Homo sapiens: one gene and its partner. The main gene of each other region encodes a partner of the protein of the gene in region 2 in a complex. Each region holds a gene or a part of one and is shown on either strand. Other genes may lie near its edges. The genes, in order: PSMB9 and PSME4.

Region 1 (3,470 bases), on a different chromosome or scaffold from region 2:
CACTGTAGCCTCAAACTCCCAGGCCTAAGCGATCCTCCCACTCAGCCTCCCAGGCAGCTGGGACTACAGGCATGCACCACCGCACCCGACTAATTTTTAAATTTTTTTGTAGAGATGGGGTTCTCACTATGTTGCCCAGGCTGGTCACTAACTCCTGGGCTCAAGCAATCCTCCCGCCTTGACCTCCCAAAGTGCTGGGATTACAGGTGTGAATACAGGGGGTTTTTTGGTTTGAATTTTAAGAGATAAAATTTATAAAACATTTAGCCAATGCCACAAATGTAGCTTCTTTTGGTTATTGTCATTATTCTTTGAAATTCACAAGTGCCCCAAAATATTTAAGCATTTTTCATGTATTGCCCTTTAATATGAATGAATGCATTATGAAAGGAATTCTTTTACATGCGAGTTTGCTGATAGTCTTAGCTAATTCTCATGTGTGTAGGTGTCTTGCCTATCTGTCAGTCTTAGCCTTAAAGGAAAGAGTCCCATCACCTCACTTGCGGCCTCATCATCATGGACCGCATGATGATGCGGAATGAGAATTTTTATTGTTTGTACTACTTCAAAATCATTCAGTACGTGATCACCTGTCATGTATAGGGCTCTTTATATTTCTAGTTTAGTCCCTTTTGTTTTCTCTAGGAAAGATGTTTTAGACCTGGGACAAAAGAAGAAAGAGTGTATGCTGACATCTAGGAGGGAAGCACCCACCTCCCCTAAGCTCCATCTCCCTGAGCACTCATTTCCCAATGACCATACCAGGTTTTGGCCCTAGAGAGTTTATTACAAAATAAGAAAGAGAAGTCTGGGGAAGGTTCACTCATCATAGAATTTTGGCAGTTCATTGCCCAAGATGACTCGATGGTCCACACCGGCAGCTGTAATAGTGACCAGGTAGATGACACCCCCGCTTGAGCCATCCCGGCTCATGGCCAGAGCAATAGCTGCAGAGGGTTTCAAGTTGGAGAGAGGGAGAGAGAGGATGGCTTAGCTTCAAAAATCTTTTTACTCCCCCTCCATCCATATGCCTACTACCACTTTCACCTCAAAACTCATCTTCCAGGAAGGCATATTTAGTGGTGTGCTGGTAAATCAGTTTTTTTACAAAAAGGCTTCCATATGTGGCATCTGCTGATGTCCGTGGTGTAAATGCTCCCGCTATGATGAATTGCAAGTTACAAATAGCTAAGCAGTTCACAAATCCTTGACTATTTAACAGTCCGCTCTCATGAGTGGTCCCAAGCCAGCCTCAGCACACCTCAGCACACCACTGGTTCTTTTTTTTTTTTTTTTTCTCCAGACAGGGTCTCTCTCTGTCACCTAGGCTGCAGCGCAGTGGTGCAATCACCGCTCACTACAGCCTTGATCTCCCCGGCTCAGATGATCTTTCCACCTCAGCCTCCTGAGTAGCTGGGACTACAGGTGTGCACCACTATGCCCAGTTCATTTTTTTTTTTACTTTTTTTTATTGTTTTTTGTGGAGACAGGGTTTCACCATCTTGCCTAGGCTGGCCTCAAACTCCTGGGCTCAAGTAATCCTCCTGCCTCAGCCTCCCAAATTGTTGGCATTACAGGTGTGAGCCACTGTGCTTAGCACACCACTGGTTCTCACAGTGACTGTGTATCCTCATTTGATTTACTCAGAACAGCCCTGGTTTATCCGTATTGCCCAAGAACCCCATTGAGCTTTGCATTTGTCCTGCCCCTTTTCACTCTTAAAAGTGTACCAGGCCCGGCATTAACTTAAATGGCCACCCCTGTATTTCTCTTCCTGTTCCTCATAATCTACTTCCTTCCCATGTTTCAAAGCCCTCCCCAGGTACCCTTCCACTTGGCTGGTTACCGTCTGTGGTGAAGCGCCTGCACTCCTCGGGAGACATGCCTGGCTTATATGCTGCATCCACATAACCATAGATAAAGGTGCTGCCGGAGCCACCAATGGCAAAAGGCTGTCGAGTCAGCATTCCTCCCAGGGTTCCATATACCTGGGAAAGGGATCCTCAGGTTAAAGAATCATCAAGCCCTTCCTTCCCACTGAGACATTAAGTGGTCTCTGCACCCTGCAATGAAGCCCTGGTATCTCATATCCCCAAAGTACTATGCTTTCAGAGGTAGTGTCCTTGGAACTCATTGCTAGAATGACATAGGACTTCCATCTTCCTCTGCAGGAGAGTGGGGAAGCCCAGAGGAGAGAGTGCTTTGGGAGAAACTCACCTGACCTCCTTCACGTTGGTCCCAGCCAGCTACCATGAGATGTGCAGACAAGTCCTCTCGATATTTATAGCTGATATTTCTCACCACATTTGCAGCAGCCAAAACAAGTGGAGGTTCCTCCAGTTCTATCCTGAGGGAAATATTAGGAATAAAGGTTGATAGAATTTTAAGTCTCATTCTCCTATACTGTTACCATCATCCCTGCTAAACGACCCCTGAAAACTGTAACTGCAATAGCTCAAACTGCAGCCTCCCTCCCACATGTACAGGGGAACCAGAGTCCCACACCACCAACTGGTAAGAAGCTTTCAATTGCTCACTCTTTTGCTCAGCCCCACCCACATAACTTTCTTTTGGCTGCAAGGACCCTGCTCTTATGGGGAAAAGCAGATAAGGTTACTTCCGTCCCAACGACCTTGATTTCTCGTATGGTAACTGCCTGATATTATGGTGGGTCACAATATCACCTTCTTCCTGATTATTTATATCAGGATAGTGATTTACAGCTTTTAAACTGTGTTCACATATAGAATGTGGTTCTCAAAATAACCGTCTCATGAGGTACTATATTATCTCCACTTTACAGATGCAGAAACTGACAGATTCAAGTGCCAGCAAGAGCCGAAACAAGACTTTTCCATTTCCCAGTGTCCAGCTCCTGGAACAGCACACTGTACAGGGATTCATGCAGGTTGGGGGAGCTCTAGTGGGTGGGGAGTCAGAACTCCAGAGCTTCATACCCATGGAGCTCCAGCTGGTAGGCGGCCATGTCGGCCACGGCTTGGGCATCAGCAGCTGAACCAGAGAGTGCACAGTAGATGCGCTCGTGCAGCGGGGACAGCTTGTCAAACACTCGGTTCACCACCGCCTCGCTGTCAGGAGGGAGTCAACAGTCACCAAGTTAAAACTCAGGTTTTTTTTTTTTTTTTTTTTTTTGAGACAGTCTCACTCTGTCACCCAGGCTGGAGTGCAGTGGATCAATCTTGGGCTCACTGCAAACTTCGCCTCCCTGGTTCAAGTGATTCTCCTGCCTCAGCCTCCCGAATAGCTGGGATTACAGGCACCCACCACCAAGCCCAGCTAATGTTTGTATTTTCAGTAGAGACAAGGTCCCAACATGTTGGCCAGGCTGGTCTCAAACTCCTGACCTCAAATATCTGCCCACCTCGGCATCCCAAAGTGCTGAGATTATAGATGTGAGCCACTGCACCCAACCAGAACTCAGGAATTTTTGAGGGTGATCATTCAATGTC
Region 2 (6,735 bases):
GGTGAAACTGTCTCTACTAAAATACAAAAATCAGCCGGGCGTGGTGGTGCATGCCTATAGTCCCAGCTATTCTGGAGGCTAAGGCATGAGCATTCCTCATGGGAACATGGGAGGCAGAGGTTGCAGTAAGCCAAGATTGTGCCATTGCACTCCAGCCTGGATGACAGAGCAAAACTCTGTCTCCCACACCTCCACACAAAAACAATCAATCACCTAGGTCAGTGCTAGGTGAACTTTCTGTGATGATGGAAAAGTTCATCGATATTATTCAGTGTGGTAACCACTAGCCACATGTGGCTCAAGAGTATTTAAAATATGCCGGTGAGACTGAGGGAATACATTTTTTATTTAATTAAATATAAATAGTCAGATATGGCTAGTAGCTACTGTATTGTACAGGGCAGATCCAGATAATTTATACTGGTCAGAGGACATACATTTACAGATACAAATCTATGGCTGCAAAAGGAAATCCACAGGAGTCACTGCCTACAGAACTGTCTTCTCCTCTTAATGAAGACAAAAGCCAGGTGTTAAAAAGAATCCATTTATTGGGTTTTAAACTAGTTACACAACTGAAATCAGTTTGGCACTACTTTATACAGGGATTACGCCTGTGTATGCCGACACTTAAATACTGTACCAGGACCACTGCTGTGCTTAGGTCTGTATTCAGTCATTCAGCATGTAGATACTAAAAATATACTGTAGTGTTCCTTTAAGGAAGACTGTACAGGGTGTGTTGCAAGATGACATTCACCAATTTGTGAATTATTTCAACCCAGAAGATACCTTTCACTCTATAAACTTGTCATAGGCAAACATGTGGTGTTAGCATTGAGAGATGCACACAAAAATGTTACATAAAAGTTCAGACATTCTAATGATAAGTGAACTGAAAAAAAAAAAACCCCACATCTCAGTTTTTGTAACAAGATAAAGAAAATAATTTAAAAACACAAAAAATGGCATTCAGTGGGTACAAAGCCCAAAATCACTATAATAAAGAACTACACGTGAATCTTTACAAATTACACAATGATGTTGTGTAAAAGGTTGCATCTGTACAATGTCTTGCCAATGCTATCTCTACAGTTTATACACTCTTTTACATTTATATAACATATTAAACAAATCAATTAAATATTAAGCCTTATTAGTCTCTCAACGATTCTGCAGGCAAAATAAAAAGGGAGAGAGAATAAAATAAATTAAAAAATTACAAAATTTCCACAAACACAGCAGTCTTCCATTTAGGTGAAGTATAATAATTTTCAGAGGGTCAAAAAATAGTTGTAAAGAATACAGGGAAAAAACAGCCAGTCAGGGTTTTTATTGTTGTTGCTGTTTATTTTTAAAATCACACATTGAATACACACAACAATCAGATTTCTTCACCAAACCCCCAATTTTTTAGCAACTGGCTCTATTCAGCACCAAAAACTCCAGTCTGTGGGAAGTGCACAGACACAGACTTCACTTCTGTGTCTTGGTCGAGCAATCCATCAGGTCATTGGTTAGGTTCAGGACTTGCCCTCTTTTCCTTCCCTCTTCATGGCTCTCCAGACCCAAGGTTCTCAAGGCTTCAGATTTATGGCCCACAGCCCCTATTACCACCTAAATCCAGCAGCCATTTGGGAAGAATTCAAAATAATTTGAGATGAATGAAATGACAGGACCTGTATTACAGATGGGTATTCTCCATTCCAAGTAAACTGTTTCTTAATGAGTTCTGAGACTCTGGTCTTGGATGCCATGATCATACTGGGTAATTATTTCTAGTCTGAGACTTTGTGACTTTGTCAGATGCCTCAAAAAAAAAAAGTGATCAGTATTCTGGAAACACTTCCGGACAAGTTGGGAAATCAAATGGCAACTGAGAAGCTGTGGAATGCAGACTAACGAGATCTAACACAGAAACCACCAAAATGATGAGAGCTCAGCAGAGGCAGTTTTAAAACTTGCAGAGAGCCACCACAGATGGTACCTGAGGGTGTGGAATTTTTGATGAAAAGAGCCTGAAGTGAGGACTAGTCATCTGTATCAGGGAGGAAAAAATTTCAATTAGGTAACAAGACATCCAACTCTAAAAGCCTAATAAATGAAATTTTTATTCTTCCTATTCCAGTAGAAAGGCTTCTGGGTACTCCCTCTTTAACAGAATGGGTGTAAGAATCCAGATCAAGTTCTCACAACTTTTAGAACCCAGAGTCCTCAGGGCCACACAAAATGTCCCAGCCCCACCCAGGAGGCAACCAAGAATAAGATGTATTTTCCTTTATCTAACTATTCCCAGGCTGACACCACTCATCTACAAAGGTCCAAAAGCAGTCACACATTTTCTCTGCTTTAAACCTAAAGCAAGGAGGCACAGCAAAATTCTCATTTCCAATGGCCGTAGCAAAAGCCATGTTTAAAAACAAACAATCCCCGCCATCCAACTTTATCTAAACACTGACATCTAAGAATGTCAGCAAAAAGAAAAAAAACAATAAATATCTAGTTCTCAGTCACCAAACCAATGTAAATTCAGAACTTTGCTGACTTACCTTTCTATGCATAATAGCATGGTGACACAAGAAGATCGGTGAGAACAAGCAGTTGGTCATCAGTGAATTGCTGTTTATGTTCCTGCCAGTTGTCATGGTGAGTCCTTCGGAAATTGGATAAGGTTTTTTTTACAGTCATCTGTAAAGTAGACAACCCACATACGTTTTAACCTCTCTGGACAACCAGGATCATATGTAGGATACTTTTAGTTAAATTACCGTCCCTCTAGACTTCAGATCTCACACAATACCAAGTTCTACAAAACCAAAAAGCCAATGAGAAGGACAAAGTGAATGGTCTTTTGAGTTACTAAAAATGCCATCATAATTTCCTATTTAATATTAGCTTCCAGTAAAATACTTTGCAGTGCTAGAAAAATAGAAACATAAAATTTATCACAACAATATTGACAGTACTTTACTTCCATTGGACTGGGAGGGATAGAAGCTACAATAATTTCCTCACTACCAAAAGATCTCAAATATCCATGGCAGCAAGGTCTCTGTAATTTTTTAATAATTACTGGTGAGCAGACTAAGCCTTGGCAGAGGCAGCAGCTTTATGAAAGCAGTTAGTTCAGAGTGTATAGGAAATTATTATTATGGTTTCTTAGAAAACATCACTGATAATACACGTACAAACTAATAAGGAAGAACTGTACCTCAATAGGCTGAGGATCATTTAGATGTGCACTGAGATTCATGAGGAGCTGGGGCATCCAGGTGGGAACATCGTAAGGACTAGAAAGAACACATGCACCAAGTCCTAGCACCCCAGCATGGCGTTTGACCAACTCTGCAAAGAGAATAGCAACATTTGTGCAAATATATATATGTCTCTAATGCACTTGTTACAGTGAGATAAAATTAGTTTTCAATTGTGTTGTTTTCAATATGTGAATTTCTGCATTTAAAATGAATCTACATGTAAACACATCAAATACTTGATTTTGAGGCTAAACTAAAAATAATTCTGTATTTAAGAATTTGTCAGCTGGGCACAGTGGCTCATACCTGTAATCCCAGCACTTTGGGAGGCCAAGGTAGGAGGATCACTTGAGGCCAGGAATTTGAGACCAGCCAGGGCAATAAAGTGAGAACCTGTCTCTCCAAAAATAATTTTTAAAAATCAGCTGGTGGCCAGGCATGGTGGTTCATGCCTATAATCCCAGCACACTGAGAGACCAGGGCGGGTGGATGACCTGAGGTCAGGAGTTCAAGAACAGCTTGGCCAACGTGGCGAAACCCTGTCTCTGCTAAAAATACAAAAATTAGCTGGGTGTGATGGCATGTGAAGTCACAGATACCCAGAAGCTGAGGCATGAGAATCATTTGACCAGGGAAGCAGAGGCTGCAGTGAGCCAAGATCGCACCACTGTACTCCAGCCTGGGATACAGAGTGAGGCTCCGTCTCAAGGAAAAAAAAAAAAAAAAAAAAGCTAGGCATGGCAGTGCATGCCTGTGGTTCCAGCTAGACAAGAGGCTGAGGCAGGAGGATCGCTTGAGCCTGGGAGGTCAAGGCTGCAGTGAGCCATATTCAAAACCACTGCACTCCAAGGAGGGCGATAGAGGAAGACCTTACCTCAAAAAAAAAAAAAAAAAAAAAGGATTTTTAAAGACTTCCATAGTTGCTTATCAATGACAGCATAATTGTACCTAGGCCAGTACAATCCCTGATTCTAAAACAATCTCCAATCAAAATTAGCGTGGTTTTTTTTTTCTGGATGTGACGCCCCTACCCAGAATACATCAATTCATTAGTAAACACATCATGTATGAAGAATGTCTATTTCTTAAAACAGAGAATTGCAGCATGTCTGTATTCTAAAGAGTCTCTATTCTTTCTGTAGTAGTGTAAGTTAGTTCTGTAGTGGTGTAAGTGGTTTCAAATTCTCAGTTCCTCAATAAAGGTGTGTGTATTCACATGTTTTAAAGCATATTACATTTGTATTTGTGACACATGGAAAATAGGGAGTTGAAGGTAAGGAAAAGAGAATTTGGACTGGTCAAAATTGTGAACAATATCATTTGGTGTAACAAAAGACCTAAAAATACTTTGGTGCTTTATCATTAAAAAAACAGAGTTCTCAGGCCAGGTGCTGTGGCTCACGTCTGTAATCCCAGTATTCTAGAAGGCCCAGGTGGGTGGATCACTTGAGGTCAGGAGTTCAAGACCAGCCTGATCAACATGGTGAAACTCTACTAAAAATACAAAAAATTAGCCAGGTGTAGTAGCGCGCGCCTGCAATCCTAGCTACTCGGCTAACAGGGGCATGAGAATCGCCTGAACCCAGGAGGTGGAGGTTGCAGGGGGCTGAGATCATGCCACTGCACTCCAGCCTGGGTGACAGTGGAAGATCCTGTTTCCAAAAAATATATATTATAAAATATATTTATAATATATATATATATGATATATATTATAAAATATATTTATAATATATATAATATATATTATAAATATATTTATAATATATATAATATATATTATAAAATATATTTATAATATATATATAATATATATACATACATATATATATCCCAAAAAGCAAAGATACTAGAATGTACATTGATATTTTATTGGATTCTGTTACTAGGTAACTTTATGACATAATTAAGACACTAATCAGCAGTAAAAGCTTTATATTTAAGCACTTCCTCTAAATTCAATAAAATTCCTACTTACTATTAATCTTTTTATGTATTTTCTATTATGATTACAGTTAACATGGCAAGATGCATCTTTGTAATCACATTTACATTTCTTTTTAAACATGACATAGTAGTCAGATCTTATTCTCGTGTTTATCTTGTGTCTATATTCAATTAGATTGGAAGCTCCTGCAATGACTCCGCACCCTCTCACCAAAGGACTAATGAAGGACCGAATAATCCCCTCTCCAAATAAAAAACAAGGCTTGCTTTAGTTTTTTCTGTTAGTACATCTACATTTAAGTTCTAAATTCCAAAACAGGTTTTTCAGACCCTCCAAAATAACTAATTCTGAATATCTCTTTTTTATGAAGCTATTCTGGGCGGAGGGTAGACTGAATACAATAGTTGTTAGGTAGCAGTTCTACAGGTTCCTTTCTATCTACCTCAATTTTAGCTTTTCTACATTCCAAGTCCTGCTTTCTATATGCAAAACTCCTCAAAAGTAGGGAAAACTTTTCCCAATACCTAGCATAGACCTGGGCACATACATACAAGTTATTCAATAAATATGAGTAAGCCTGGTTAACCCTCATTAATTCCCAATAGGATACAGGTGTTTCCTACCAGCAATGTTACCTGCAGAAGGAATGGTATCTCCTACAGAACCAGGGTCTCGCTTTCTTTTCTTAGGTAGTTTTGTTTTGCAAAGTTGCTCAAAATGAATCTGCATAGGACTGTCCATGGTAAGAAAGTTACACTGTAGCAGACCGCTTAAGGTAGTAGCAGCCATTTCTCGAACCTGTAGATATAATAATTTCTATTAGGACTGACATTCTAAGTCTGAGGGAATAATGGAGGATAGGGGGTAGTGTGGGAACTGGGGTGAAGACCTTCCCTGAAATTGCATGCAAATTTTGTGTATGCTCTTTGGCAGTTTCTTAATAGAGATTTCAGCAGATTCTCAAAGAGTTTGTGGCCTCATAATGGATAAAAACTACATTAGGGTTATGAGCATAAACTTTTATCTCTTTTAGCAAAATTAAATTTCTCCATAAATTATTTTCCCTACTGATAGCTCTCATCAGGGCTATAACTGTAAAAGCAGTGCCAGAACCTGACATTAAGATCAAGTTTTTCCAGACTCTACATCTCTGAAGGCCACTGCTATAGCTATTTTTGTTAGTAACAAAGACACAGACCAACCTAATTTCTGTAATTGGCATACATCATGGAGACTTACATCCTATGTGATTCTTATGAATTTCACAGGCTGCTGTCAGATCACAAACACAGTTTACAAAAGTACTAAATGAAGCGTGTACACAGTCCATTTCAAATTGGAATGGTAACTCAACTTTTGGGAAAACAAAAAAGCGGTAAAAAGACATTGTTTCACATATAAATCACAAACATTTGTTTAATATTCATAATACACAATGATAATTTTAAAAAACAGATGTTTTGCTCTGTTGTATTCCTTCAAAAGGTTTCTCATAATTTTATCATCGTCTGTCGAGTACGTAACATGTTC

Evidence for each region.
Region 1: PSME4 (region 2) and PSMB9 share a complex: the UniProt entries of both Homo sapiens proteins name them as parts of the spermatoproteasome.

What each region holds. Positions count from the first base shown.
Region 1 is NC_000006.12:32,856,882-32,860,351, reverse strand, and holds the end of PSMB9 (proteasome subunit beta type-9 precursor), read right to left. Parts: intron 3,090-3,470; coding exon 2,958-3,089; intron 2,348-2,957; coding exon 2,218-2,347; intron 1,989-2,217; coding exon 1,847-1,988; intron 948-1,846; coding exon 820-947; 3' UTR 501-819; downstream 1-500. UniProt on the Homo sapiens protein: The proteasome is a multicatalytic proteinase complex which is characterized by its ability to cleave peptides with Arg, Phe, Tyr, Leu, and Glu adjacent to the leaving group at neutral or slightly basic pH.
Region 2 is NC_000002.12:53,863,536-53,870,270, forward strand, and holds the end of PSME4 (proteasome activator complex subunit 4), read right to left. Parts: intron 6,004-6,735; coding exon 5,841-6,003; intron 3,346-5,840; coding exon 3,212-3,345; intron 2,689-3,211; coding exon 2,554-2,688; 3' UTR 2,550-2,553; intron 2,039-2,549; 3' UTR 534-2,038; downstream 1-533. UniProt on the Homo sapiens protein: Associated component of the proteasome that specifically recognizes acetylated histones and promotes ATP- and ubiquitin-independent degradation of core histones during spermatogenesis and DNA damage response.